Linked DNA regions of Homo sapiens: regions 1, 3 and 4 are each linked to region 2. The links come from fine-mapping of genetic effects on gene expression. A gene starts in region 2. Each other region holds a variant in brackets. All regions are shown on one strand. Distances are between the middles of the regions. Region 1 overlaps PHACTR4 (phosphatase and actin regulator 4). Region 2 holds the start of RCC1 (regulator of chromosome condensation 1). Region 3 overlaps TRNAU1AP (tRNA selenocysteine 1 associated protein 1). Region 4 overlaps PHACTR4 (phosphatase and actin regulator 4).

Region 1 (5,590 bases), 61 kb before region 2:
AATGTATTTTTTTGGCTGGGCGCAGTGTCTCATGCCTGTAATCCCAGCACTTTGGGAGGCCAAGGCGGGTGAATCACGAGGTCAGGAGATGAGACAACCCTGGCCAACATGGTGAAACCCTGTCTCTACTAAAAATACAAAAATTAGCTGAGCATGGTGGCGCGTGCCTGTAGTCCCAGCTACTCAGGAGGCTGAGACAGGAGAATCGCTTGAAACAAGGAGGCGGAGGATGCAGTGAGCCGAGATCGTGCCACTGCACTCCAGCCTGGCGACAGAGTGAGACTCTGTCTCAAAAAAAAAGAAAAAAAAGTTTTTGTTTGTTTGTTTGTGTATTTATTTATTTACTTTTTTTTGAGATGAAGTCTCACTCTGTCACCCAAGTTGGAGTGCAGTGGCGTGATTTCGACTCACTGCAACTTCTGCTTTCCAGGTTCAAGTGATTCTCCTGTCTCATCCTCCCGAGTAGCTGGGACTACAGGTGCCCACCACTAAGCCTGGCTAATTTTTGTATTTTTGTAGAGACGGGGTTTCGCCATGTTGGCCAGGTTGCTTTCAAACTCCTGACCTCAAGTGATCCGCCTGCCTTGGCTTCCCAAAGTGCTGGGATTACAAGTGTGAGCCACTGTGCCTGGCAAATTTTTTTTTTAATTGAAAATAATTGTACCTGTTCATGGGCTACATAATGGATATTTCCATATGTATGATGTGATTAGATTAGGGTAATTAGCATATTCATCATCTCCAACATGTATTTATTTATATTGGGAAGGTTGAAATCCTCCTCAGCTATTTGAAACTACATATTATTAACTATAGTCATTCTGCAGTGGCATAGAACACTAGAACTTTTTCCTCTTATCTAGCTGTAATTTTGTATTCTTTAACAAATCTTTCCCTACCCATCCCTTCCCATTATCTCTCCCAGCCTCTAGTAGCCTCTGTTGTACTTTTTACTCCTATGAGATCAACTTTTTTTTAGCTTCTATGTATGAGTGAGAACATGTGGTGTTAAACTTCCTGTTCCTAGCTTATTTAACTTAAAATAATGTCCTTAGTTCCATCCATGTTGCTGAGAATGACAGGATTTCATTGTCTTTCTTTCTCTCTCTCTCTTCTTTCTTTCTTTCGTTCTTTCGTCTCAACTCTGTCACCGAGGCTGGAGTGCAGTGGCGCGATCTCGGCTCACTGCAACCTCCACCTCCCAGGTTCAAGCAATTCTCCTGCCTCAGCCTCCCGAGTAGCTGGGACTACGGGTGCACACTGTCATACCCAGCTAATTCTTTTTTTTTTTCTTGAGACAGAATCCCACTCTGTCACCCAGGCTGGAGTACAGTGACACAATCATAGCTCACTGCAGCTTCAGCCTCCTAGATTCAAGCGATCCTCCCCCCTCAGCCTCCTAAGTAGCTGGGACTACAGGCACATGCCACCACACCTGGCTAGTTTTTTTTATTTTTTGACGAAACGAGGTCTCACTCTCTTTCCCTGGCTGGTCTCAAACTCCTGGACCTGGACTCAAGTGATCTTCCTGCCTCAGCCTTCCAAAGTGCTGGGATTACAGTTGTGAGCTAGTACACCTGGCTCATTCTTTTTTATGGCTAAATAGTATTCCATTTTGTATATATACCACATTTTCTTTATCCATTCATCTGTTGTTGAACACCTAGGTTGATTCCATATCTTGGCTGTTGTTGAGTAGTACTACAGTAAACATGGAAGTGCAGATATCTCTTCAGTATAATGATTTCCTTTCCTTTGGATATATTCCCAGTAATGGTATTGCTGGATCATATGGTAGCGCTATTTGTAGTTTTTCTTTCTTTTGAGGACCCTCCATACTGTTCCCCATAGTGGCTATACTAGTTTACATTCCCACCGACAGTGTATAGTGTTCCCTTTACTCTGTACCCTCACCAGCACTGGCTACTTTTTGTCTTTTTGATAATAGCCTCCTAACTGGGGTGAGATGATACCTCATTGTGGTTTTGATTTGCATTCACCTGATGATTTGTTATGTTGAGCATTTAAAAAAATATATTTGGCTTTTTTTTTTTTTTTTTTTTTTTTTTTTTTGAGACAGAGTCTTGCTCTGTCGCCAGGCTGGAATGCAGTGGCGTGAGCAGTCTTGGCTCACTGCAACCTCCGACTCCCTGGTTCAGGCTGTTCTCCTGCCCCAGCCTCCCGAGTAGCTGGGATTACAGGCACGTGCCACCATGACCAGCTAATTTTTGTATTTTTAATACAGACAGGGTTTCACCATGTTGGCCAGGATGGTCTTGATCTCCTGACCTTGTGATCCGCCCACTTCAGCCTCCCAAAGTACTGGGACTACAGGCATAAGCCACAGCCCTTGGCCTATTTGGGCATTTTTATGTCTTCTTTTGAGAAATGTCTCTTCAGATCATTTGGTCTTTCCCATTTTTATATTATTTATTTTTTTATTTTTATTATTATTATTTTTTGAGACAGAGTCTCGCTGTGTTGGCCAGGCTGGAGTGCAGTGGCGCGATCTCGGCTCACTGCAAGCTCCACCTCCCGGGTTCACGCCATTCTCCTGCCTCAGCCTCCCAAGTAGCTAGGACTACAGGCGCCTGCCACCGCACCCAGCTAATTTTTTTTTTTTTTTTTTGTATTTTTAGTAGAGACGGGGTTTCACCGTGTTAGCCAGGATGGTCTCGATCTCCTGACCTCGTGATCCACTTGCCTCGGCATCCCAAAGTGCTGGGATTACAGGTGTGAGCCACTGCGCCCAGCCTCCCATTTTTATATTATTTAACTATTTATTTATTTATTTTATTTTTTTGAGGCAGAGTCTTTCTCTGTTGCCCAGGCGGAGTGCAGTGGCAC[G/A]ATTTCAGCTCACTGCAACCTCCACCTCTCGGGTTCAAGCAATTCTCTGCCTCAGCCTCCTGAGTAGCTGGGATTACAGGCGCCTGCCAGCATGCCCGACTAATTTTTGTATTTTAGGTAGAGACGGGGTTTCACCATCTTGGCCAGGCTGGTCCTGAACTCCTGACCTCATGATCCACCTGCCTCAGCCCCCCAAAGTGCTGGGATTACAGGCGTGAGCCACCTCACCTGGCCATATTTAATTATTCTTTTTTAAGACAGAGTCTCGCTATGTTGCCCAGGCTGGTCTTGAACTCCTGGGCTCATGCGATCCTCCCACTTTGGCCTCCCAAAGTGCTAGGATTACAAACATAAGTCACTGCACCCAGCCCTTCCTAATTCTAATTAGAAGGACCAAAGATTTTTAATAAATTCTCTCCAACCATTTGGCTTGGAACTTTCCTTCTCTGTCTTTCCATTTTACCTCTCTTTTTTTTTCCTTTTTGCCCCTTCATTTACCCTAATTCACTAATTAACTTTTCCCCCCACTTTTCTTTTGCATAATAATATATTGCTATAAAAGATACTGTATGTTCTCTTTCCTACATTCCTTTTCCATAACCATTTGATTTATTTTCTCTGAAACTTGGAGTTATGGGGTTCTCACCCTTATGATACTGGAAGCAGTTTTGGGGAACGTGATTTGGAAATATATCATCCCCCATCTCTACAAAAAAAATGTAACAATTAGTCAGGTGTGGTGGTGCACACCTGCAGTCCCAGCTGTTCAGGAGGCTGAGATGGGAGGATCACTTGAGCCCAGGAGGTTGAGGCTGCAGTGAGCCATGATCATGTCACTGCACTGCAGCCTGGCTAACAGAGCGAGACTGTGTTTGAAAAACAAAAAAGAAAGGAAAAGAAATATATTATCACTTAGAGGCAAAATCCTAAGGAGATTGCAGGATGAATAAAATTTAACATAGCTACATAACAACAATAAAACTGGAGTAAATAATAGGTTAATTTAAAATAAAGTACTTCATGAGATTTTGGAGAAAAAGGCTTAGTAGTATTTGGTTATCAGAATTATAAAGACATTTCTCATACCTGTCTGCTGTTTATCTAACAGTAAATGCTTTCTTTTAAAAAAGGAGAAACAGGCATACTTTCCTCATGTAATCCAGTGTTCAGGAGGAGGTGGCAATATAGGGGTCTGTCATAAACTCCTTAAAAGATTCTCTGTTATCAAATTTGGACTACCAACCAAAACTTATTGATCCCTCTCTCTGCTCCAGTGGATTTTCTAAATAGGCCATTAATAAGGTTTGGATCTAGGTCCCCAACCAGATCCCATGTTAAATTGTAATCCCCAGTGTTGGAAGTGGGACCTGGTGGGAGGTGATTGGGGTGGATTTCTCACGAATGGTTTAACACCATCCACTTAGTACTGTCCTCAAGATAGTAAGTTCTCATGAGATCTGGTCATTTAAAAGTGTGTGGAGGCTGGGTGCAGTGGCTCATGCCTGTAATCCCAGCACTTTGGGAGGCCGAGGCAGGTGGATCATGAGGTCGGGAGTTCAAGACCAGCCTGGCCAACATGGTGAAACCCTGTCTTTACTAAAACTACAAAAATTAGCCGGGCATGGTGGCGTGTGCCTGTAGTCCCAGCTATTCAGGAGGCTGAGGCAGGAGAATCCCTTGAACCCTGGAGGCGGAGGTTGTCGTGAGCCAGGATTGCGCCACTGTACTCCAGCCTGGGCAACAGAGTGAGGCTCCATCTCAAAAAAAAAGAAAAGTGTGTGGCACCTGCCCCCTTGCTCTCTTGCTCCTGTTCTGGGCCATGTGACGTGTCTACTCCCCCTTCATCTTCCACCATGATTGTAAGTTCCTGCAGCTTCCCCCGAAGCCAGGCAGATACTAGCATCATTCTTCCTATACAGACTGCAGAAACATGAGCCAATTAAGCCTCTTTTCTTTATAAATTACCCAGTCTCAGGTATTTCTTTTTATTTATTTATTTATTTATTTATTTAGATAGAGTCTCACTTTGTTGCCCAGGCTGGAGTCCAGTGGTGCGATCTCAGCTCACTGCAACCTCTACCTCCTGGGTTCAAAGTAATTCTCCTGCCTTGGCCTCCTGAGTAGCTGGGACTACAGGCGCGTGCCACCAAGCCTGGCTACTTTTTGTATTTTTAGTAGAGACGGGGTTTCGCCGTATTGGCCAGGCTGGTCTTGAACTCCTGACCTCAGGTGATCCTCCTGCCTTGGCCTCCCAAAGTGCTGGGATTACAGGTGTGAGCCACTGTACCTGGCCTCAGGTAATTCTTTATAGCAATGCAAGAATGGACTAATAGACCTATTATCACAACCTACATATGTATTTCCTCTTTCTTTTTTCTTTTTTTTTTTTTTGAGACAGTCTCACTCTGTCGCCCAGGCTGGAGTGCAGTGGCACGATCTCGACTTACTACAACCTCTGCCTCCTGGATTCAGGTGATTCTCCTGCCTCAGCCTCCCAAGTAGCTGGCATTACAGGTGCCCACCACCATGCCTGGCTATGTATTTCGTCTTTCTACTTGCAAGTAAACTTTGGAAAGTTTGAAGTTTTTTTTCCATGAGTGAATAGCTTATATTCTGGCCCTTCACTATAAAAACATACCCTTAACCTGGAATTTTTTGTCAGAACAGTGTGCACATTAAGTTGCCAGTGGTAAAGCAACTTCACTTCTTGATACAATCATAGGCAGAAAACTATTTTTCCAGA
Region 2 (5,590 bases):
CATAGTATGTTCAGCCTCCTAAGCCTGAAACTCTGGTATCCTCAAGTTCTTCTCTTACCTTGCAATTCCAGTGGGACGACAAACCCTACATCAGAAATGTCTTTTTTTTTTTTTTTTTTTTTTTTTTTTGAGATAGGTTCTTGCTCTGTTGCCCAGGCTGGAGTGCAGTGGCATGATCACGACTCACTGCAGCCTCCATCTCCTGGGCTCAGGTGATCCTCACACCTCATAAGTAGCTAGGATTACAGGAATGTGCCACTACACTCAGCTAACATTTTTTTTAAAATTTTGTAGGCCGGGGTCGGGCGCAGTGGCTCAAGCCTGTAATCCCAGCACTTTGGGAGGCCGAGGCAGGTGGATCATGAGGTCAGGGGTTCAAGACCAGCCTGACCAACATGCTGAAAACCCGTCTCTACTAAAAATACAAAAATTAGCTGGGCATGGTGGCGGGCGCCTGTAATCCCAGCTACTCAGGAGGCTGAGGCAGGAGAATTGCTTGAACCTGAGAGGCGGAGGTTGCAGTGAGCCGAGATCGCACCACTACACTCCAGCCTGGGGGACAGAGTGAGACTTCATCTAAAAAAAAAAAAAAATTTGTAGGCCGGGCACGGTGGCTCATGCCTGTAATCCCAGCACTTTGGGAGGTCAAGGCGGGCAGATCACGTGGTCAGGAGTTCAAGACCACCCTGGCCAATATGGTGAAACCCCGTCTCTACTGAAAATACAAAAATTGGTGGGGCATGGTGACACTTGCTTGCAGTCCCAGCTACTCGGGAGGCTGAGGCAGGAGAATTGCTTGAACCCAGGAGGCAGAGAATGCAGTGAGCCAAGATCGAGCCACTGCACTCCAGCCTGGGCAACAGAGCAAGACTCCATCTCAAAAAAAAAAAAAAAAAGAATTGCTGCGATAGTAAATAATGTACGTAATAAAGCATTCAGAACAAAATCTAATATGTAGGAGGAACACCATAAACGTTACTACTCAAGATAGCCCAGCTGTGATAGCTCTGTCTCTCTAGCCAACGTTTTTCCACCTTACACCACACTAAAAATTCCATCATATTTGCAACATTTCTTATGTATATATATCGTAAGCATTCTTTACTTGCCTACTTCATATTCAGAGGGTTTTGTGTGTGGTAAAATATACATAAAACTTGCCATTTTTAACTAGTTTAAAATGTATAGGGGGCCAGGTGTGGTGGCTCAGGCCTGTAATCCCAGTACTTTGGGAGGCCAAGGCGGGCATCACTTGAGGTGAGGAGTTCGAGAGCAGCCTGGCCAACATGGTGAAACCCGGTCTCTACTAAAAATACAAAAATTAGCCGGGCATGGTGGCATGCCTATAGTCCCAGCTACTCGGGAGGCTGAGGCAGGAGAACTGGTTGAACCTGGGAGGTGGAGGTTGCAGTGAGCCGAGATCACACCACTTCCTTCCAGCCTGGGCGACAGAGCGAGACTCCGTCTCAAAAAAAAAAAAAAAAAAAAAGTCCAGGTGCGCTGGCTCATGCCTGTAATCTCAGCACTTTGGAGGCCGAGGCGGGTGGATTGCTTGAGGTCAGGAGTTCGAGACCAGCCTGGCCAAGATGGTGAAACCCCGTCTTGCTAAAAATACAAAAATTAGCCAGGCACGGTGGCGGGCGCCTGTAATCCCAGCTACTGGGGAGGCCGAGGCAGGAGAATCGCTTGAACCCGGGAGGCCGGGGTTGCAGTGAGCCGAGACCGCGCCATTCCACTCTAGCCTGGGTGACAGAGCAAAACTCCATCTCGAAAAAAAAAGAAAGAGTATAGGGCAGTGCTTTTAATTACATTCATTCACACTGTTGTGCAATGGAGTTTTTTATTTTTTATTTTTATTTATTTTTATCCGGGCCAGGCCTGGAGTTTTTAAACTTTTATCTGATTCGTCTAGGGGCACTTTCATCTTATTTACCTTCACATTTATCAAATTATTTCTTTCACAGGTGACAGAGCAGATTCAATTCCTTTTGATACTCCGTATTTCTCTATATGTATTTTTTTCATTCTGCATTCTTATTATTCCAACGTTTTACTTATTTATTTGGAGAGAGAGTTTCGCTCTGTCGACCAGGATGGAGTGCATCGGCGCGATCTCGGCTCACTGCAACCACCGCCTCCCAGGTTCAAACGATTCTCATGCTTCAGCCTCCCGAGTAGCTGGGACTGGAGGTGCGCGGCACCATGCCTGGCTTATGTTCTGTATTTTTTGTAGAGACGGGGTTTCGCCATGATGCCCAGGCCGGTCTCGAACTCCTGGCCTCAAGCGATCCGCCCCTCACGGCCTTCAGAGCTGCTGTAATCACAGGCGTGAGCCACCGCGTTCGACTCTTCCAAAAACTTTTTGGCCAGTTTATCTAAGGGCATATCCTACAGACTGAGTCCAGTGATTGCACAGAAGTAAACGTCCTCTGCAGCTACATACCTACAAACCTATTTCTGTAACGTACATTCCCCAGCAAGGTCCCGCGGGAAGGATCCACTACCGCGAGAGGCCTCCCAGCCAGGAAGGGGTGGGGCTCAATCTGCAGTAGATTCCCAGAAGCCTCAGTGAGTTTCTGATTCTCTAACTGCGCATGCTTCTGCGCACGCGCAATAGACATTCCAGGACTTCCGGGCACTTCGTAAGGTTTAAAAAGGATGCTTCGCGTTTTCTCTCTCCTTTTTGGAGACAGATTCGCAGTGGTCGCTTCTTCTCCTTGGTAAGTGTGATCCTTGGTAAGTGTGATCAGATGCTTGCCACCGGAGTTGTGGGTCTAATGCTATAGATCAGTAGCCGAGCTTCCCTAGGAAGATCATATAGTATTTTATTTATTTACTTTTTTTTTTTTTTTGAGACGGAGTCGGTTTGTCACTCAGGCTGGACTGCAGTGCTCGTTGCAACCTCCGCCTGCCGGGTTCAAGCGATTCTCGTGCCTCAGCCTCTCCAGCAGCTGGGATTACAGGCACGTGCCACCACGCCCGGCCAATTTTTGTATTCTTAGTGGAGACGGGGTTTCGCTATGTTGGTCAGGCTGGTTTTGAACTCCTGATTTCCGGTGATCCACCACCCTCGGCCTTCCAAAGTGCTGGGATTACAGGCGTGAGCCACCGCGCCTGGCCGGAAATCATGTAATTTAAAACTATATATGGGTGTCTTAGGCGGCATCGGTCCCAACTCTAAAGTACGCGTTAGACGGGCCTGGGCCAGAAGTGGGCCATGGAGACCTCGGGACCCGCAGGGCTGCCGCCCGACCCAGCGAGCCTCTGAAGGTGCACCGCCACCCCCACTGTTTATCTTACTGCCTCATAGTAGGCACATTGTCGTTCTCAATATAATTGCACACAGTTTTATTCTGGATCCTCATTTGCCTTTAAGAATTTTCTCAATTTTTCTTTTTATTTGATCGCACCACTGCAACCTCCGCCTGCTGGGCTCAAGCAATTCTCCTGCCGCAGCCTCCCGAGTAGCTGGGACTACAGGCGTGTACCACCGCGCCTGGCTTATTTTTGTATTTTTAGTAGAGACGGGATTTCACCATGTTGGCCAGGCTGGTCTCCAACGCCTGACCTTGTGGTCCGCCACGCCAGGCCGAAGATTTTCATAATTTGGAAGCATTGCGTTTCGTAATTATGCTTTCTCGTATTTTTGTGATTTGGGTCATTTTTATTTTTATATTTTTAGGATTACAGGCGTGAGCCATCGTGCCTGGCCGATTTGGGGGTAATTAACAAGTCCACGTGTTTCATTTGAATTTAGGATAGCTGGGCCTAATTGTTGTCTTTGCTTCTGCGGTACCTTCCACATAGTACTAACCGCCTATTGTAAAGTAATTAGAATAGCTGAATATGCATGTTACCAGTCTAGAAACCGATTTTTTTTTAACACCCCACTGTGGACAGGGTGGAAACTCGTTTGCTTTCTTGTTTAAGATCTGTAGTAACATGAATGGATGAAATTGTTTCCTATTGGATTCTGTAAATTTATGCGTTACACTGATTGTCCAACGTGGATACACCCGGGAGGTCACTCTCCCCGGGCTCTGTCCAAGTGGCGTAGGGGAGCATAGGGCTCTGCCCCATGATGTACAAGTCCCTTTCCACAACGTTGGAAATAAAGCTGGGCCTCGTGTCTGCGCCTGCATATTCCTACAGCTTCCCAGAGTCCTGTCGACAATTACTGGGGAGACAAACCATGCAGGAAACAGCCTTCTAGAGCACTGAATCTGGATTGAAGTCTTTTTTTTTTTTTTTTTTTTTGGAGATGGAGTCGCTCTGTTGCCCAGGCTGGAGTGCAGTGGCGCACTCCATTGCCTCTGCCTCCCGGGTTCAAGTGATTATGCTAAGTGATTCTCCTGCCTTGGCCTCCTGAGTAGCTGGGATTACAGGCCCCCGCCACCACGCCAGGCTAATTTTTGTATTTTTAGTAAAGACAGGGTTTCACCATGTTGGTCAGGCTGGTCTCAAACTCCTGACCTTGTGATCCGCCAGCCTCTGGCCTCCCAAAATGTTGGGATTACAGGCGTGAGCCACCACACCTGGCTGGATTGAAGTCTTAATACATGTTTAAGAAAAATTGGCTAAAAAGTAGCCAGGCATGATGATAGGTAGCTGGAGGAAGGAGAATCGCTGGAGCCCAGGAGTGACCTATACTCAAACCTATACTCCAGTGCCACTGTACTCCAACCCCAGGCGATAGCATGAGGCCCCTCGTTGAAAAAGTTTAGGGTTTTGCTGTACTAATAGATTAATATCTTGTTTTGCAGGATTTGTTAAGGATTCCAAGTAACTCTTATTTGGTGAGTAAATCTGCTAATTGTTTTTTGCTTATCAGCTCTTTGTCAATGATTTCTGTAATGGAAATAGGATTGAAGAGACTTTTATTCTAGTTGGTCAGGATTTACCTCTGAGGCATTTAATCATTCTCAGAGCAATAGCCAAATATCGACTTTGCTGCATTTTTGTAGGCATGTTGACATAACTTCAACATATGCTCTGTTCTGTAAAAATTGCTTTTTTTAGTCAGCTCATTAAAAGTGCAAAGTAGTAAAAGCTGCCCTAGTGAACTGTAGGAAGCCTAATTGGCTTTATCTACATGTGTAGCCTGAGCTGAGAAAGATACTAGCCCTTGAAAATACTGTGGGTGATTAGCAATATTGGATTTGTCGGTTACTCCAATTCCTCACTAATGAGCATTCCAACGTGGATACCCTGGGAGGTCACTCTCCCCAGGCTCTGTCCAAGTGGCATAGGGGAGCTTAGGGCTCTGCCCCATGATGTACAGTCCCTTTCCACAACGTTGAAGATGAAGCTGGGCCTCGTGTCTGCGCCTGCATATTCCTACAGCTTCCCAGAGTCCTGTGGACAATGACTGGGGAGACAAACCATGCAGGAAACATATCTAGTATACTAGATTTTAAGTTGAAGTAGGATCTTCAGGAGTCTAATCATTATTTCTTTTCTTTTAGGAGAGAAGACGATCTGCACTTCGCATTTTGGCATTGACATTTAATTTTAGGGTCCTTTATATAGAAGGGAGAGTAGGTAAACTGATTTTTTTTTTTAACAGGGAGGGTTTGACAATCTTTGGCAG
Region 3 (5,502 bases), 52 kb after region 2:
ATCAGCTACTGGTATGAAAATTCATTCTGTAACCTTTCTCATTTTTTTTTCTTTTTTTTTTTTTTGAGACGGAGTCTTGCTCTGTGGCCCAGGCTGGTGTGCAGTGGCACGATCTCGGCTCACTGCAAGCTCCACCTCCTGGGTTCAAGCCATTCTCCTGCCTCAGCCTCCCAAGTAGCTGGGACTACAGGCGCCCGCCACCACGCCAGGCTAATTTTTTGTATTTTTAGTAGAGATGGGGTTTCACCATGTTAGCCAGATGGTCTCAATCTCATGACCTCGTGATCCGCCTGCCTTGGCCTCCCAAAGTGCTGGGATTACAGGTGTGAGCCACCGCGCCCGGCCCCTTTCTACTTTTTAAAACACTGGCATAGGCTGGGCACGGTAGCTCACACTTGTAATCCCAGCACTTTGGGAGGCTGAGGTGGGCAGATCACTTGAGGTCAGGAATTTGAGAACAGCCTGGACAACATGGTGAAACCTTGTCTCTACTAAAAAAATACAAAAATTAGCCAGGTGTGGTGAGACACACCTGTAATTCCAACTACTTGAGAGGCTGAGGAAGGAGAATCGTTTGAACCCAGGAGGTAGAGGTTGCAGTGAGCCGAGATTGTGCCACTGTGCTCCAGCCTGGGTGACAGAGGGAAACTTTGTTGCAAAAATAAATAAGTAAAACACTGGCATAGATTCTCACATTTTAATCTTTTTTTTTTTTTTTTTTCTGAGGCATAGTCTCCCTCTGTTGCCCAGGCTGAAGTGCAATGGCACCATCTTGGCTCACTGCAACCTCCGCCTCCTGGGTTTAAGCCCTTCTCCTCTCTCAGACTCCTGAGTAGCTGGGATTACAAGCACCTGCCACCACGCCCAGCTCATTTTTTTTGTTTGTTTGTTTTTTGAGACGGAGTCTCGCTCTGTCACCCAGGCAGGAGTGCAGTGGTGCGATCTCAGCTCACTGCAACCTCTGCCTCCCAGGTTCAAGCGATTCTCCTGCCTCAGCTTCCTGAGTAGGTGGGACTACAGCCGTGTGCCACCACATCCAGCTAATTTTCTGTATTTTTAGTAGAGATGGGATTTCACTGTGTTAGCCAGGATGGTCTCAATCTTCTGACCTCTGCCTGCCTCAGCCTCCCAAAGTGCTGGGATTACAGGCGTGAGCCACTGCGCCCGGCCTAATTTTTTCTATTTTTAGTATAGATGGGATTTCACTGTGTTGGCCAGGCTAGCCTCGAACTCCTGACCTCAGGTGATCTGTCCGCCTCAGCCTCCCAAAGTGCTGGATTACAGGCATGAGCCACTGGGACCAACCTTACTGTTTATTGAAATAAGATATGGGCCAGGCACAGTGGCTCACACCTGTAATCCCAGCACTTTGGGAGGCCGAGGCAGGCGGATCACGAGGTCAGGAGATCGAGACCATCCTGGCTAACACAGTGAAACCCCGTCTCTACTAAAAATACAAGAAAATTAGCCAGGCATGGTGGCGGGCGCCTGTAGTCCCAGCTACTCGGGAGGCTGAGGCAGGAGAATGGCGTGAACCCGGGAGGTGGAGCTTGCAGCGAGCGGAGATCACACCACTGCACTCCAGCCTGGGCGACAAAGTGAGACTCTGTCTCAAAAAAAAGAAAAGAAATAAGATATGGAACTCTTGTTTCTTACATGTTTCTTTTTTTTTTTTTTTTTTTTACTTTGAGGCAGAGTTTCGCTCTTGTCACCCAGACTATATTACATATTATTTTTCCTTGGGTCTTATCTTTTCTCCTTTTCTATAATCTTGGTGTTTTGTTTTGTTTTGTTTTCTTTTGAGACAGAGTCTTGCTCTGTCACCAAGCAGGAGTGCAGTGGCGCAATCTTAGCTCACTGCAATCTGCACCTCTCGGGTTCAAGCCATTCTCCTGCCTCAGCCTCCCGAGTAGCTAGGACTACTGGCACATACCACCATGCCCAGCTAATTTTTGTATTCTTATTACAGACAGGTTTTCACCATGTTGGCCAGGATAGTCTCGATCTCTTGACCTCGTGATCCACCCACCTTGGCCTCCCAAAGTTCTGGGATTACAGGCGTGAGCCACCGCTCCCGGCCAACACCCAGCTAATTTTTTTTTTTTTGGTTTGAGGCAGAGTCTCTGTCGCCCAGGCTGGAGTGCAGTGGAATGATCTCGACTCACTGCAACCTCCACCTCCCAAATTCAAGCAGTTCTCCTGCCTCAGCCTCCTGAGTAGCTGGGATTACAGTCATGTGCCACTATGCCTGGCTAATTTTTTTTTTTTTTTTTTTTTTGTTTAGTAGAGACAGGGTTTCACCATGTTGGTCAGAACTCCTGACCTCCTGATCCACCCGCCTTGGCCTCCCAACGTGTTGGAATTACAGGCGTGAGCCACTGTGCCCAGCCCGCCCTGCTAATTTTTGTATTTTTTTTTTTTTTTTTTTGAGATGGAGTCTGGCTGTGTTGCCAGGCTGGAGTGCAGTGGCGTGATGTTGGCTCACTGCAACCTCTCCCTCCGGGTTCAAGCAATTCTTGTGCCTCAGCCTCCCGAGTAGCTGGGATTACAGGCACACACCACCCCACCCAGCTAATTTTCGTATATTTTTTTTTTGTTTGTTTTTGAGACCCAGTCTCACCGTGTCATCCAGGCTGGAGTGCATTGATGC[G/A]ATCTCAGCTCACTGCAACTTCCGCCTCCCGCGTTCAGGCAATTTTCCTGCCTCAGGCTCCCGAGTAGCTGGGACTACAGGCACACACCACTACGCCCGACTAATTTTTTTTTTTTTTTTTTTTTTGAGACGGAGTCTCATTCTGTCGCCCAGGCTGGAGTGCAGTGGCGTGATGTCTGCTCACTGCAAGCTCTGCCTCCTGGGTTCACGCCATTCTCCTGCCTCAGCCTCCCTAGTAGCTGGGACTATAGGTGCCCGCCACCACGCCTGGCTAATTTTTTTGCATTTTTAGTAGAGATGGGGTTTCACTGTGTTAGCCAGTATGGTCTCAGTCTCCTGACCTCGTGATCCGCCCGCCTCGGCCTCCCAAAGTGCTGGGATTACAGGCGTGAGCCACCGCGCCTGGCGAAACTGGACGTTTTCTTACATAACCACAATGCTTATATCACACTAACAAAATTATCAGTGATTCTCTAATACCATATCATAGCAGGTCTACATTTAAATTTTTATAATTGTCCCCACAATATTGATAGTTTTTCATTTATTAGTGAATTATAATTCAATCCAGGAACCTGCATTGCATTTGGTTCTTCTGAGTCTCTTTTATTTTTATTTATTTTTTATTTTTTTGAGACAGAGTCTTGTTCTGTCGCCCAGGCTGGAGTGCAGTGGCGCGATCTCGGCTCACTGCAGCCTCTGCCTCCCGGGTTCAAGCAATTCTCCTGCCTCAGCCTGCCGAGTAGCTGGAACTACAGGCGCCTACCACCATGCCTGGCTAATTTTTTGAGTCTCTTTTAATGTATAAAAGCCAACCTCTTTTTTTCCTCATACTATTTAACTTTTTAAGGAGGTAAGACTAGTTGTCTTTATAAGAGCCTATATTCTGAGGCTGGGTGCGGTAGCTCATGCCTGTAATCCTAGCACTTTGAGAGGCCGAGGCGGGCAGATCACCTGAGGTCGGGAGTTCAAGACCAGCCTGACCAATATGGAGAAACCCCATCTCTACTGAAAATACAAAATTAGCTGGGCATGGTGGCGCATGCCTGTAATTCCAGCTACTTGGGAGGCTGAGGCAGGAGAATCGCTTGAATCTGGGAGGTGGAGGCAGGAGAATCGCTTGAACCCAGGAGGTGGAGGTTGCAGTGAGCCAAGATTGCGTCATTGCACTCCAGCCTGGGCAACAAGAGCAAAACTCGGTCTCAGAAAAAAAAAACAGATCATACATTCTGCATTCATTTGTTTACTTGTGGTGTTTTGCATAGTCTATCTCTAAAATTTCCTGGAACTGGTTATTAGATCTAAAGTCTTGATGGGATTGCATAATACAATTTTGACAAGAGTATTCACACATGATAAAATGCATAAATGAATGTTTACTAAATGAGTCTGGGGCCAGGTGCCTTGGCTCATGCCTGTAATCCCGGAACTTTGGGAGGCCGAAGTGGGTGGATCTCCTGAGGTCAGGAGTTCAAGATCAGCCTGGCCAACATGGCAAAATCCCATCTCTACTAAAAATACAAAAATTAGCCAGGCATGGTGGTGGGTACCTGTAATTCCAAGTGTTCATGAGGCTGAGGCAGGATAATTGCTTGAACCTGAGAGGCAGAGGTTATAGTGAGCTGAGATCGAGATGATATCCGTCTCATAAATAAATAAATAAATACAGATAAACGAATCTTGGACTGGCCCAGATGGACAATCCTTATATTCAGGCTTGTAAATTAGGTCTGAGCTGGGGTATGGCAGGGAACAAAAACAGTGTTGGCTCAGATTAGAAAAACATTTCTTTCTCCCTTCAAGGCCAAGACCCATCTTGAGCCTTTTTTTTTTTTTTTTTAAAACAGTCTCAAACCAGCCTGTTGCTCAGGCTGGAGCAGTGTGGCATGATCTCAGCTCACTGCAACCTCCACCTCCTGGGTTACAGCAATTCTCCCCCTCAGTCTCCCGAGTAAGCTGGGACTACAGGTGTGCGCCGCCATGCCCAGCCAATTTTTGTATTTTTAGTAGAGATGGTGTTTCAGCATGTTGTCCAGGCTGGTCTCCTGACCTTCAGTGATCCACCTGCCTTGGCCTCCCAAACTGTTGGGATTATATGCGTGAGCCATCACGCCTGGCCTCATCTTGAGCCATTTTATCTTTAACCATTTTCTTTCTCTATTTGCTTTTTTTCCAGGATCCCAGCTGGCTACTGCTTTGTAGAATTTGCAGATTTGGCCACAGCTGAGAAGTGTTTGCATAAAATTAATGGGAAACCCCTTCCAGGAGCCACACCTGTAAGGACATTTAGATAATGATGATGTTGCCATTATTATTGTCATTGCTTACTACCATCTATTGAATCCCTACTGTATACTTATTTTATTTAATCCTAAAACAACCCTTTACAGTAGGCATTGTTATCTTTGTAGGCCCAGGAAACTGAAGCTCAGGGAATTGAAATAACTTGTCCAAGGCAACACAGGTAGTAAATGGCAGAGCCAGGATTCAGACTGAAGATTGGTTGCCTCCCAAATCCATGCCTTTCCATTCTGCATTGCTGCCTCCCATAACCGAAGACTTGAAACTCTAGACCTCTTGCCTGATTGGGAAACTAGAATAGGCTGGCAGCAGCAAGGACACATTTCAAGAGAGTTGCATTCTGCTCTTCCCACAGTTACTTAGCTTACAGCTGCACCAGCTGGCACACCTGGGCTCATAGAACCATGGAGCTGGCAGTGCCCTTAGCGGTCATCCGTGCAACCCCCTCATTTTATACAGGAGAAAAAGCTGAGGCTTAGAGAGGGGGAGATGTTTTGGCCAAGGTAATTTATTTCAGTTTTCTTCAAATATTGTTCAACTCTTGAAACACC
Region 4 (5,590 bases), 92 kb before region 2:
AAGCAATTCTCCTGCCTCAGCCTCCCAAGTAGCTGGGACTACAGGCACCTGCCACCACACCCAACTAATTTTTGTATTTTTAATAGAGACGGGATTTCGCCATATTGGCCAGGCTGGTCTTGAACTCCTGACCTCAGATGATCCACCTGCCTCGGCCTCCGAAAGTGTTTGGATTACAGGTGTGAGCCCGGCCTGAGATTATTTTTTTCTAAACACTTATTTAAATCTTGGAATTTGTAAATTAACATTCATTCAATCATAATATGGAGTTTATAGGAAAACAGAAATGACTCATATTTAACTACCATTCTCCTCTGTCTCCATTTTTCCTTCTAAATGTTATAATGATTTTTTTCTTAGTTGTTTACTATACATATACACACATATACATATGATAAGAATTTGGTGTACTCAGTGTCATTTGACAAAGAAAAGAATTGAGGATGTAAAATGAGTTTGTTTCTTTTGGTGGAGTGAGAATTTTGTTATAATCAAGTTAGCTAATAATTAAGTAGAAATATTGAAAAAGAGATAAAAGACTACACATTGGGTACAGTGTACACGGCTTGGATGATGGTTGCACCAGAATCTTAGAAATCACCACTAAAGAACGTATTCATGTAACCAAATACTACCCATTCCCCAAAACCTATTGAAGTAAAAAATGACATAAAAAAGGAAAAAAAGAAAACAGAAACCACCCAAAAGAAAGAAAGAAAGAACGAATGAACAAAAGAAAGAAAGAACGAATGAACAAAAGAAAGAAAGAAAGAGAAAGAAAGAAAGAATTATTTGTGGTATTCTGGAAATAAAAGTAGTGAGGGATTTTTACGAATAAAGTACCAGAAGGATAGACCTAAGGTCTCTAGGACCTTTTCTACCTGGACAGATGCTTACACATTTCATTATATAATATTTAAATATCATGTTCGTTAATATCACTATTGGTCTCGTTGAAAAAAATGTTAAATGTTGGGAAGCTGTCAAGCTCATTCTGGATGTAAATTTTCCAAAATAGGAATTTCACTTGAAAGCTTGAATTCTATCACTAGCAACAAATACTGTTAATTTTCTTTATTAGTGACAGGCTTACTTTTGAGAAAATGCCTGTCAGCTATCTAAGCTTGAATAACATAGCTTGTTGTTCAGTCTTTCAAGTAAAAATAGTATTCCATGAAGAAAACTGTCTAGTTCAGTTTGCAACTCAGTCACACAAATGCCTTTCCTGGAGATAACCATCATACTTAGTATACAAATGTGCTTTATACATATTTCTGTTTCATCATAAACAGTAATAAAAATATATGTACTAAAGGGTTGATATTTATTAAAACTAATATTTTTTATTGCTTTATCAAGGACATTCTTAAAGTTGAATTTATTTTTCACTGTAACTGTGTAGTTGTGAAGAATACAATGATTTCTGCTACAGTTTGGTGCTGTTGCCTTGATTTGTGTTAAGGTGCTAACAGTTTTGCTCACCATTGCTTTTGTACCATCAGTGCAAGTGTCAACACAGTGGAAAAGGCAAATAATTTTTTTGTATTCTTATGTATTTAGTTTTACCTCTTGGACTTCTGAAAGGATCTCAGGGATCCCCAGAGATCAGCAGATTATACTTGCTTCATTTTCCTGAGGTTCCTAGAGGCCCTTCTATGGAAGTCATGAGTAAAGTTAAGATTTAATCCTGGAGATTGTATTGGGCAGGGTTTCAGTGTGGACTAGGTCTTGGACATTTGACAGAAATATGGTCAGAGGGAGTGATTAGCTCTGTGGTTTCTCCTAAGCAGGAGTACCCTGCACCACTACCCCCGGGCCACAGGAGGTGAGCAGTGGGCCAGTGAGCATTACAGTCTGAGCTCCACCTCCTGTCAGATCAGTGATTAGGTGGAACAGTTTCATCCCAAACCACCCCAACACCCCCGTCTGTAGAAAAATTGTCTTCCATGAACCTGGTCCCTGGTGCCAAAAAGGTTGGGGACCGCTGGGTTAAAGAAACTTTTGTGGAGCGAAATGAGTCTGGAACTCATTAGGCAATCAAGTATGTTCAAAGAAGAAATCCATAAGCATTTAGTCAAGACAGGCTGAGGGCCAGGCTCACCTGGGTACTGTGTTCTTAGCTTTAAAAAGGATAAATAGCAGCAGAGATATTGGTGATGACAGCTTTCAATATATCTCTTGAGTCACATTGCTCCAGTCTGTGTACAGGTGGCCTTGCAGTCTGTAGAGGTGGTACGCAACTGTCATCCTGGGTTATCCAGTCTCCATTTTCCTGACAGCTTTGCTTCTTTCCTGTGTTAGCTCCTTTGTTTCCTAAACCCTCATGTCTTCCTCTGTCTTGGTTGCCAGTAGCTTTTTGATGTTGAACCTCCTGGAATAATTATCTAATTCATTTCTTTTTCCTTTAGATATGTTTCCTGCAAGATTTATTCAACTTTATCTTCTACTTTTATTAAATTTTTCTTTTCTACTATTAGAGTTTAATCTCCAGGAGGTCTTTTTGAAGTCTCTGCATGTTTCTTTTTATACTATCCTTTCATTCTTTCAACAGATTTTCCTTGCCCTGCATAGTCTCTTTTTTTCCTAACATTGTTTTTAAATATTGATTTGGTTTCTTTTATGTTAGAGTTTTTCTCTGATGTCTAGTAATAATTAACTGTCTGCTGATGGTTAAAAGTGAGGGACTAAATAGCCAGTTAGAAGCTTTAAATGTATAGGCAGGTTGCCTTTGGGTGAGCTTCTTGGCCTTATTGTTGATGAACAT[T/C]CTCATATCAGTATCAGGGTCTAAGGGGCACAGTCTTCCCACTGTGTTTGGATGGTAAGGGGTGAAGAAAACTGACTGAAGAGACTGCTGCATTCAGCATTAATTATGCATATTTTCACTTAATTCTCTTCCATTTTTAATTTTACTTGTATTTGTATTTTATTTTACTTTATTTTTATCTTTTGAGATGGAGTCTTGCTCTGTCACCCAGGCTAGAGTGCAGTGGCGCCATCTCAGCTTACTGCAACCTCTGCCTCCTGGGTTCAAATGATTCTCCTGGCCTCAGCCTCCCGAGTAACTGGGATTACAAGCACCCATCACTGCCTGGCTAATTTTTGTAGTTTTAGGGTTTCACCATGTTGGCTAGGCTGGTCTCGAACTCCTGACCTCAGGTGATCCGCCTGCCTCGGCCTACCAAAGTGCTGAGATTACAGGCATGAGCCTCTGCAGCTGGCCTTATTTTCTTTTTCATTTTATTTTTTTATTTTTATTTTTTGGGGTCAGTCTTCCTCTGTCTCAAAAAAAAAAAAAAAAAAAAAAGCACCGCAGCCTCGACCTCCTGAGCTCAAACAATTCTCCCACCTCTGCCTCCCAAGTAGCTGGGACTATAGGCACATACCACCATGCCTGACTAATTTTTTTACTTTTTGTAAAGATGCAGTCTCCCTATGTTGCCCAGGCTGGTCTTGAACTCCTGGGCTCAAGTGATTCTCCCACCTCGGCCTCCCCAAAAGTTGAGATTACAGGCATGAGCCATTGCACCCAACCCCTTCCATTTTTTGTACCATATCCCTACCATCAGTTGCCTTTTGCGACCCCTTTCCAGAGACCATTTGCTTTACACTTTCTTGGAAAACAGATTCCAAAATTCCGCCAGAGTTAGTGTAGGACAGACATTGAAGATCATGGAGTAGGGAAAGTGATAGAGGAATCAAACAGCTTTTACCTTGCTTCTCCTGATTTTAGGTCACCTCCCTTTCATCTCATTTCAGAGACCTGGATAAAATACAATGAATGTATTACTTGTTAACCTATACTGGTGTATACTACCAGTTAAAAGAAAAAATTAGGCTGGGCGCGGTGGCTCACCCCCGTAATCCTAGCACTTTGGGAGGCCGAGGTGGACGGTTTGCCTGAGCTCAGGAATTCGAGACCAGCCTGGGCAACAAGGTGAAACCCCGCCTCTACTAAAATACAAAAAATTACCCAGGCATGATGGCGTGCTACTGTAGTCCCAGCTACTTGGGAGGCTGAGGCAGGAGAATTGCTTGAACCCGGGAGGCGGAGGTTGCAGTGAGCCAAGATCACGCCACTCCACGCCAGCCTGGGCAACAGAGCGAGACTCTGTCTCAAAAAAAAAAAAAAGAGAGAGAAAAGAAAGAAAAAAATTCATGGCTACACTGTACATAAGTGCTGAGTGAAGGAAGGATCCAGAGAGGATGTGCATAGAATTTGTGCTACCATGATGCTCCACACCCCACTACTTTCAAAAATAGCTAATTCGTGCTTCTGCTTTCTTCCTCCCTTTTCAACTGCTTATGGAGTTAACAGTCATTCTCCCAAGAGCATACCAGAACAAAAGGGACTGAAACCCTAGCATATCACTTATTTAAAAGTACTGAGTTGTGACTTCCTTCTAAAGATTTTTGAGGTGGAGGAGGATCTGCATACTAATTGCCTTCCCAAAATGTTTTAAATCATCTGAATACTTCATTAAGTTTCTATATACCCTCTCTTGTATAAATATGAACATGACTTGTTGAAAATACTTTTTTGGGTGTGTTTGGTGATTGTTTAATGAGATGTAGATTATCAGTTTGCATTCTGAATTTAAAGCTAGTTGCAAAGGCTTTATTCATATGCATGGCATTCTGGAAACAAATTTATAAGATAATACCTCCTTTTGATTAGAATTTGTATCATATAGGAAATAGGAGAAGTAGTTTGTTAAGGTAGCAAATAGAATTTATTATTTCCTAAACAAAGTCAATTATTTTTTTCTTATTCTGTATCTGAATTTATGAATTATTATGATGATGCTATAAAGGAGTTTTTTTCTAGCTGTTTAAGAACATTTGCCAAGGAGCCAAACTCAAGACATAATGCACTTCAAAGTTCATGGGAAAACATTTTTGATGTTATGTTGTTATCACTTGAAGCTCAAAATATGCCAGTAACATAGTCCTTCCCTCCCTCCTCTTTAAGAATGAAAGACAAAATACAAGCTTAATTAGTTTTGAGGTCCTCAGGGTGTAGGAGTTAAATTCCTCCAGTATTACATGATGCCAAAATTGATGCTAGTTCCATTTTTTCTCCTAGTGGTCTTGATGAGAAATTTAATATAGCATTATTATAAATATATATTAAATATCCTCTGTCATCTTATTTCCTGAAGGGGTATAAAGGTCAACATGTTTTTACTGTTACATCCTACCCACTGCCCAGTAGTAAACACACAATACATATCTGTATGTGTTTCTTCCAGTGGTTTTAATTTTTCTGCATAAGATAGAATTACCAATCTTAAGGAAAACAGAGTACACAGGCACCAAATTCTGTGAACCTGAATAACAGATATTATGTAATTATTTTTTCTGTCAGTAGAAAAAGATGAGCTGTAGTAGTAGTAGTAGAAGCCTGGAAAGGCAGTAATGCTGACATTCTGGACTATTGCCTGTGTCCTCTCACCACTTTTTATCACTTCTGACTACGTCTTACTCCTAGAAAATCATAGCAAGTGGGATAGGTTGACTAAATGCATGGACTGGTTTCCATCTGAATTTATTGCTGCAAACTGAGCCCTTATCAATGTGTCATGCACCCTGG

Evidence for each region. PIP is the estimated chance that this variant, and not a neighbour inherited with it, causes the effect. A credible set is the group of variants that fine-mapping cannot tell apart.
Region 1: its variant is the best candidate, but not a certain one, in a credible set for the expression of RCC1 in whole blood (INTERVAL, PIP 0.72).
Region 3: its variant is the best candidate, but not a certain one, in a credible set for the expression of RCC1 in lung (TOPMed, PIP 0.78).
Region 4: its variant is the best candidate, but not a certain one, in a credible set for the expression of RCC1 in CD4 T cells (BLUEPRINT, PIP 0.52).

What each region holds. Positions count from the first base shown.
Region 1 is chr1:28,442,172-28,447,761 of GRCh38, forward strand. The region is part of intron 2 of PHACTR4 (phosphatase and actin regulator 4); the gene reads left to right. Among named protein-coding and RNA genes, the nearest start is that of SNHG3, 61 kb to the right of the region's middle. The variant G/A (reference allele first, on the strand shown) is at 2,848.
Region 2 is chr1:28,503,365-28,508,954 of GRCh38, forward strand. RCC1 (regulator of chromosome condensation 1) reads left to right here and starts at 2,679. Exons shown (of 13, transcript NM_001381865.2): 1 at 2,679-2,720; 2 at 4,764-4,796; 3 at 5,466-5,541. SNHG3 (small nucleolar RNA host gene 3) reads left to right here and starts at 2,579. Exons shown (of 4, transcript NR_036473.1): 1 at 2,579-2,720; 2 at 2,856-2,963; 3 at 4,764-4,796; 4 at 5,466-5,590. SNORA73A (small nucleolar RNA, H/ACA box 73A) reads left to right here and starts at 4,001; the gene lies at 4,001-4,207. SNORA73B (small nucleolar RNA, H/ACA box 73B) reads left to right here and starts at 5,194; the gene lies at 5,194-5,398. RefSeq lists enhancers at 3,493-3,787, 3,979-4,744.
Region 3 is chr1:28,555,807-28,561,308 of GRCh38, forward strand. It overlaps TRNAU1AP (tRNA selenocysteine 1 associated protein 1), which reads left to right. Exons shown (of 9, transcript NM_017846.5): 3 at 4,827-4,926. Among named protein-coding and RNA genes, the nearest start is that of TRNAU1AP, 5.5 kb to the left of the region's middle. The variant G/A (reference allele first, on the strand shown) is at 2,651.
Region 4 is chr1:28,411,146-28,416,735 of GRCh38, forward strand. All of the region lies in intron 2 of PHACTR4 (phosphatase and actin regulator 4), which reads left to right. Among named protein-coding and RNA genes, the nearest start is that of PHACTR4, 44 kb to the left of the region's middle. The variant T/C (reference allele first, on the strand shown) is at 2,765.